Linked DNA regions of Homo sapiens. The protein of the gene in region 2 purifies or fractionates together with the protein of the main gene of each other region. This does not show direct contact. Each region holds a gene or a part of one and is shown on either strand. Other genes may lie near its edges. The genes, in order: ACACB and NPAP1.

Evidence for each region.
Region 1: the proteins of NPAP1 (region 2) and ACACB purify together in Homo sapiens (affinity purification with mass spectrometry; one large-scale study listed by BioGRID and IntAct). This does not show direct contact.

What each region holds. Positions count from the first base shown.
Region 1 is NC_000012.12:109,231,460-109,235,272, reverse strand, and holds part of ACACB (acetyl-CoA carboxylase 2), read right to left. Parts: intron 2,605-3,813; coding exon 2,467-2,604; intron 1,526-2,466; coding exon 1,426-1,525; intron 1,336-1,425; coding exon 1,228-1,335; intron 1-1,227. UniProt on the Homo sapiens protein: Mitochondrial enzyme that catalyzes the carboxylation of acetyl-CoA to malonyl-CoA and plays a central role in fatty acid metabolism.
Region 2 is NC_000015.10:24,674,097-24,678,009, reverse strand, and holds the start of NPAP1 (nuclear pore-associated protein 1), read right to left. Parts: upstream 2,236-3,913; 5' UTR 2,143-2,235; coding exon 1-2,142. UniProt on the Homo sapiens protein: May be involved in spermatogenesis.

The DNA.
Region 1 (3,813 bases), on a different chromosome or scaffold from region 2:
CGTAAAAGGAACTGAAGTATTGCTGCATGTTACCACACGGATGAACCTGTAAACATTATGCTAAGTGGAAGATGTCAATCATAAGAGACCTCCTGTGATCTGATTCCATTTATATGAAACGTCCAGAATAGGCAAATCTATATAGAGAGAAAGTAGATTAGTGGTTGCCTAGGGCTGTGGTGGGGAGAGGGTTTTTGGGTTGGGGACAGAGGGGAGTGACTGCTAACAGGTACAGGGTTTTTCTATGGAGTGATGAGAATGTCCTAAAATTGATTCTGGTGATGGTTGTACAACCTGGTGAATATACTAAAAATATATTAAATTGTACACTTTTTTTCTTATTTCTTCTAAAAAAAAAAACAGGATACATGTGCAGAACGTGCAGGCTTGTTACACAGGTATATATGTGCCATGGTGGTTTGCTGCACCTACCGACCTGTCCTCTAAGTTCCCTCCCCTCGGCCCCCACCCCCCGACAGGCCCCGGTGTGCGTTGTTACCCTCCCTCTGCCCATGTGTTCTCAATGTTCAGCTCCCACTTATGAGTGAGCACATGCGGTGTTTGGTTTTCTGTTCTTGTGTTAGTTTGCTGAGGATGATGGCTTCCAGCTTCATCCATGTCCCCGCAAAGGACATGATCTCATTCTTTTTTATGGCTGCAAAACTGCACACTTTAAATGGGTGAATTGTGTAGTATGTCAATGATGTCTCAATAAAGCTGTTATTAAAAAGATAATTAAAAAATATCACATTGTATACTGTAAATATATATAATTTTTTTTGAGACAGGGTCTCGCTCTGTCCCCCAGGCTGAAATACAATGGCATCACAGGCTTACAGAGCAACCTGCTGTTATTGGCACACTTGGTCATCAATGTAAGTAGCCATTTTAAAACTGCCAGTTTCTGGATTATTCCAACAAAAACACTCCCAGAAAATCTCCAAACTATTTATTGGGTGTGCCCTCCGTACCTGGGACTGGCTAAGCCGTGTATATACTTTGTCATTGAATCATTGCAACACCGTGAGCGAGAGAAATGCTGACCCCACGTTCAGCCACATCTGCCCAAGGTCGCCAGCTATGAGGCGAGCAGAGCTAGAGTGGGAAGCCAGGTCTGTGGCTCTGAAGTACTCAGCACGCCTGCCTCCCCAAGGGCCGCCTCGACGAGCCCAGCCCCTCCTCCTTCTCCAAGAACCCCCACCAAAACCAGAGGCACGCCCAGAGTACCTTGGACTGTACGAATGTCCGTAAAATCGGCACCAGTGCCTCATCCTCCAGGTGGTCTGCACACTGGATGGACACATTCAGAATGTGGATGGGCTCTTCTCTGAGGCTCTGAGAGGGAGAAGCAAGGGGTAGGGCTGGAAAGCCTGGGGGCCACGGCCCACCTGCTCCCCAGGTTGCTCCCTGGGCTTAGACGCTTACCTTGCAGTCATCCTCGGAGTATAGGGAGGTGCGGGCCTCGCTGAAGAGGGGGGTGTCTTTGGGCACGTTGGCGAAGCAAGAGATGACTTCATCAAAATTTCTGGGGGTGCGGGTAGAGAGGGAGGGCTGAGGGGCTGCTGACCCATGGGGATGAGGTCAAGCTTCCAAGCCAGGCAGCAGGGAACGCCAGACCCTCCCAATTTCCCAGCCAACACCCTTTGATCTTATCCAACTCTACAGAGCTCAGGAGGTTCCCTGTCTACTTTGTCCAGAGCACCCGTGATGGGGTCCTTCCCAAAAGGGAAGAATGAACCTAAGTGATCTGTGATCAGGAATACAGGGAAGGATTCCAGCGCTTTCAGGCATCAGCTGGGCTTGAGATCAACTCTTGGCTCCCATTTTTACTGGCTGGGAGATCCTAGAAACCTCACCTCACCCCGAGTCAAAGAAAGGTAATAAGAGTAATCCCTATGCCTCATGAGGCTGTTGTGAAAATTCCACAAGATACTCCAAGCACAAAGCAGAACACACAGTGAAAGGCTGAAAAAAGACTATAACAGTAACTATTGAGAGCTAACATTTAGTCACTATATTATCTGCATACTAATTATACTTTAAATATGTTATTTCACATATGTTATCTCATTTAATTCTCATGGCGCACCTATGAAGTGAGTCCTTTATTATTCCCATTTTACAGATAAGAAAACGAAGGTATGGAGAGGTAAAAATATTTTGCTCAGTCTCTTAGTTAGAAAGCACATAGCCAGAATTCAAACCAGGCAAGCTGACACGCAGGCTCACACTCTTGGCTACGATGCTCTTATTATTCTGTTGTTATTGATGTGCTGTGCCAGGCAAGCTGACATGTAGGCTCATACTCTTGGCTACAATGCTATTATTATTCTGTTGTTATTGACATGCTGTGCCACGTGTCTGGGTCTCTCCCACCCCATCTGTCCAGTGAATTGGGGGGGGATTCAAGGGAAGTCTGCCCAGCCCCCATGCTCAGGGTGTTGGAGACCGGGCCATGCTGGGTACCTGGTGAAGTCCTCGAATCTCCTGAAGGCTACCATGGCTCCCATGCGCTGGCACAGTGGGGAGAAGCCGCTGTCCATGAAGAGCTCTGTGCTGTGCCTCAGCAGGTCAGGGTTGGTGATGCTGATGGGCACGGTCATCCTGTAAGGTGATGGCAAGTCGGGGATGAGGCAGCTGCTTGCAGACCCAACTCTACGAGCTGCTCCTACTCCTGAAGCTTCAGTGAGCTGGACCAGATTTAGAGCTCTTCCAAATGGGGGCTTAAAATGGGCAGGGGATGAGACAATGGCTGGGGCCGGGGCCTGAGGAGGGTCTCATCTGATCCCTCAGGACCTGGTGAAGAGTAAGAGCTCAACAAGTGTAGGAATCAATGATTCATGCATGAGAGTCCAGTCTCAACACAGTCCCGAGGGGAGCCCCAAGTGCTGAACTTGACCACAGAGAAGAAACACTCCCAGCATCAATTTCTCCTGGAGAAATCCACCAGCCCCAGGCAGCTGGTGAGGCAGTCAGGCTTGGTCCTGACGGACACTCCAGTCCTCTGCTCCCTGTAATCCCTCCATCAAACTTGCCCTTGGGACAAAGTCAGCAGCCTTCTGGAGTTTAGACAACGATGCTCCCAGAACTGGCTGCTCACCAGCAGCAAATCTCAATGGGCCACCTGAGGTTGTTAGAATTGGGCCTTGGAATCAGATACGGGAGGGGTAATGAAATGGTGTGCAGGAAGTCAGCACAGCAGGCCCCACACTGCTCTTCTGAGAAAGGAGACCTGCTTGCTTGCAAGGACAGCCCTTGGCTGGCCTCTGGGAACTTGGACTTGGGGAAGGTTCCTATCGTTCCCTGAAGGTGACAAGGGGGGCTCACTGTGCCTCAACTGTTTGCACAAACAGTGTGGTTTATGCTGAACACCTGCTTTCTTCTGCAAGCCTGAGATTTCGATGCAGAGCAGAGGGTGATGTGACCAGCCACCAATCCCTGGTGCGGGGCTGGAAGACAACCCTTCACTTGTGTTGTCACAACTCCTTGCTGGGGGAATGAAGTGCACCCTGCGTGAATCCACTGGGAGAGGACCCTGGCAGCACACCTGCTTTCCTCTGGACTTCACCCTGATGCCTTCTGCCTTGGCTAACTGCTTTGTATCCTTGCCCCCTAATAAGTCAGAGCTATAAGCATGACTATGTCCCGAGACCTGTGAGTTCTCCTAGGCGATGATCGAACCTGGGGGTGCTTTTGGGGACCCTGACACAGGTGTGTGCATTCCTGTTGGGTGCTCTGAAATCACGATCATGGCCCCTCTGCTCCCCGACAGCTCAATCCAGGGGTCACAAACTTGCAGTGGCAGTGTGGCTG
Region 2 (3,913 bases):
GGCAGACTGCAAGATGACAGCCTTGGAAGGAGGAGTGGTATGCATAGCATTGGTTTCAATGGGAGGTTTGGATGATGATGCTGTAGAGGCACTGTTCACTAAAGTGGAGGTGTCTGGAGGAGGAATGATGGGAAGGCTCAGGAAAACACAGGCACTGGGGAGAGAAGCTTTCTGCGGCTGCCCATCAGGAGCCTCAAATTTGGGCTGAGGGGTGGCTTCTTTTCCAAAGAGTTGGTTAAAACTTGGGGTGGTATTGTGGAATATAAATGGAAGTGGGGATGTGTAGACTGATGTCTTTCCCGGGTGCCTCTGCTCTGCACTGCAATGTATTTGGGAATTTGGGAGAGAGCTCACTCTGGAGCTTAGGGAAGATGTGAAAATAACAACCTGAGATGGGGCAGTAGTATCCATATTAACTACTTCAGGGTCTACCGCAGTCTGTGAGGTTAGGTGGGCAGATGCGTTTGTTGTGACAGTGGAAATGACTGACGTGGAATTCATAGGCTTGCTGGTGATAACTGAGGTCCCGGTGGAAGGGACTGGAAGAAGAGTCAGGAAGGAAAGAGGAGGAGGGGAATCCACACACATAGATATTGGGGACTCCCTTGTGACGGGAGGCTTGAAGGAGGGTGTGGAGCTAGGAGGTGTTGGGGGGTCAGAAGTGAGAGGCGCTGCTCCTACGACTGAATTATAAGAGCCTCCTTTCTCATTAGACTGATCACCCAAAATGGGAACAAGGTCAGCAGGAAGAGCCAGAGGAGAGTTAGGGATTGTGAATGCTATTTTCTCATCCATTTTTGGTGTGGTGGAAAGTGGAGGGATAGGCAGGATGAGGGGTCCAGTAGCCAGGTCAGCCAAGTCAGGGATGGGCAAAGGAGCTGAGACCTGGGAAGTGTAAGTGGTCAGGGGCAGGGAGTCTGTGGTCTGCACAGGTTGGGAGAAAGAAGGGGCAGGCTGGGTGATGCTGCTGTTTGTCATGGTCTCTGTTTTATCCTCCAAGATTCTGCTATTCCTTTTATACTCAGGGCTCTTCTCCAAGGTGTGTAGGTCTCCCTCAACAGACAGGCAGGGGAGCTTAGCAGGTGGGGGAAGCTCACCTCGATCCCACAGCAATGGCAGTGAAGGGGGCAGCGGCAGCAGCAATGGAATCGACATTTTCCTTTTGCAGGGCCTGTTGCGGGCAGCTCTGGGAGGAGCAGCGCTCCTTGGAGGAATACAGAAAGGCTTCTCATCAGGCATCCTCTTTCCGGACATCAGCGGAATCGGCAAGCCTAGGGAGCTGGGCGGTGGCTCTTCATTCAGCACTTCCGCAGCCAACTTCTGCTGCAGCAGGGAGCAGCCAACGGCTGGCTCAGGGGGCGCTGTTGCATCCGGATCAGGCTTTCCAAGATGCCGGGCACATCCGGCCTGGCTGTGTGTGCTGGGCATGGCAGGGCCTTCCAAGCAGGAGCTCGCTGGAGACGCCTGGGCCTTCTCACTCATGCTGTTTTCTGAGAACTTGTGGTAGACATTTCCCTCCAGAGGCCCAGGGCTGCATCTGAAGGAGGCCACGTCTCCCTGGGTGCCCTGGGACCTGGATGTGGACGATGCTTCTCCGCTGCTAAGGGGGGTCCTTTTCTCGTCATCCTCCCCTTCGATCTGCACCGGATCCTCATCCTTCTTCACTCTTCTGGGCCCTTCTTGGGCCCACACCTCGGTCTCCTCCAGGAGAGTGGCTGGGATGGGCTTCCTGGCCTTGACCGCCGGCTCACGTGGTGAAGGCAGCAGGAGAGTGAACATGCGGCTGGGAGGAGGGATCCTTACGGAACTGGGGTGTCCAAACCTCGGGGGGTTCCGAGCAGGCAGCATGGGTGTCTTCCTGATGGCCAGCCCCCAACCCACAGCCGGCAGGACCCCCAGAGGGGCGGCCGCAGCCCGAGGGAGAGGACACGGCCTCTTAGGGGCGACGAAGATGCTGGCTGCTGAAGGCCTGCGACGGGCGTTCCGGCGGAACAGGCCGCGGAAAGGGCGCGGGGTGGGTACAGAGTGAGCCCGACCGGGCGGGGAGGCGTCCCGGGACAGGGGAGCGGGGGCGCCACGCCCTGGCCCTGGCAGGGGCCGGCGGCGGCACCCGGGTCTAAATTTACTAAGTAAATTGCCCATTTAGAGCTAGCCGTGCCTCCTACCGTAAAACAGGGTCAGCAGTGGACTCAACTCTCCTCAGCCACCGCCTCCTCTGGCGACCAAGCACAAACTGACTGGCTCTACGCCTGCGACGCCGCCGCGAGGTTCCTCACAGAACCAGGGAGCGCCAGCGGGGGCGCAAAAGGCAGGGGTCAGAGGGCAAAGGGCGACGCCCCGTCGGCCCCAGCTGCCCCAGGACCCCCGGAAGCCCCGCTGCCGGTGGCAGGTGTTGCACCGCGTGGCCTCTATGAGGGAACTGCTGGGGCCTGCGGGCCCATCGCCAGAGCTCTTGTCACCTGGGCGCCGGCTCTGCCTGTTCCTTAGCCCTGGCCCGGCGCTGTTGCACGCAGTGGCCCTGTGTCGGCCGTCCCCATTCCCCGGTTCACAGAGGGCACATCTGCTTCAAGTTAAGCACAGGACAACCTATATCCTGCCAGCCTCCTCTAGGACCTTGGCAGTGCTCTGTGCTGCCTGGAGCCAGGTGTGCCGTCTCTGTGGCGCCAGGGTCACCAGCCAGGCCGTGAGGGTTTCCGAGGAGGGGACGTGGTGCCTTGTCCTGACTAGATGCTACGCCCTACCACATCTCTTCCTGGCAGGCAGGGCCTCTTCACTTCTTTTCACAAATTTGTTTTAAACAACATTTAAGGCTGGGCGCGGTGGCTCACGCCTTTAATCCCAGCACTTTGGGAGGCCAAGGCGGGTGGATCACCTGAGGTCAGGAGTTCGAGACCAGCCTGACCACCATGGTGAAACCCCATCTCTACTAAAAATACAAAAATTAACTGAGCGTGGTGGCACGCACTTGTAATCCCAGCTACTAGGGAGGCTGAGGCAGGAGAATCGCTTGAAAGCGGGAGGTGGAGGTTGCAGTGAGCTGAGATCACCTCACTGCACTCCAGCCTGGGGGAACAGAGCAAAACTCTTGTCTCAAACAAAAACAAAAACAAAAAACCACAACAAACAACAGCAACAACATTTAAGCCTTAGGCTGCTTGCTCCTTGGGTCATTGATATGACAGTGGCCTAGCCAGGCTTCGAACCTGGGCTGTGTGATTCCAGAGCTGGTGCCGTGGCCTGTGTGCCTCCTTGTTATGGACACATCATGTATTCTCATTATTTCCTGTAGTCCTTAGGGTACCTAGCACACAGCACATCTGTATTAAGCACATGCGTTCCTAGGGGGAAGCCCTTACTTCACCTCATAAGTTGGTCATGGCAGGCACTGGGCTCCAGTCTCCTCTGAAGACATGGGGCAGCGACCCCCAATAGTCAGCAAAGCAGCATCCCACACTGTTCTTCTAATTGAGCCTTGCAGCCCAGATTTCCTTTTTGGTCTAGTTTGAAGGATCTAAATATGTAAAGATTATAGTCCAGATCCATTTTGGCCTATCCCGAAAGAAATTCACCAGTGGATTAATCCAAATGGATAAGCCAGTTCTCTGGCCTTCTTGGAATATGTTAGAAAGCAAATTCATCATGTATTTGCAAGTCAGTAGTGGAGCAATGTATTCGATTAAAATATGATCAATACAATTTGGTCATTGTCCGCATGCCAGCAAGGCCCACTCTTTACCACACATTACTGTCACCTAAGTATAACTATCCATATTCTTATGCCCAAGGAAGGAGACTTAATATTGGTTTTTAGGACAAAGGAAATATGTGTTACTGTTTTAAGAGCTGGAAGTTTCAGCATGACAAGAAAGATTTGGAAAATCCTACACATGACCTTATCTAGTTTTAATCTTGT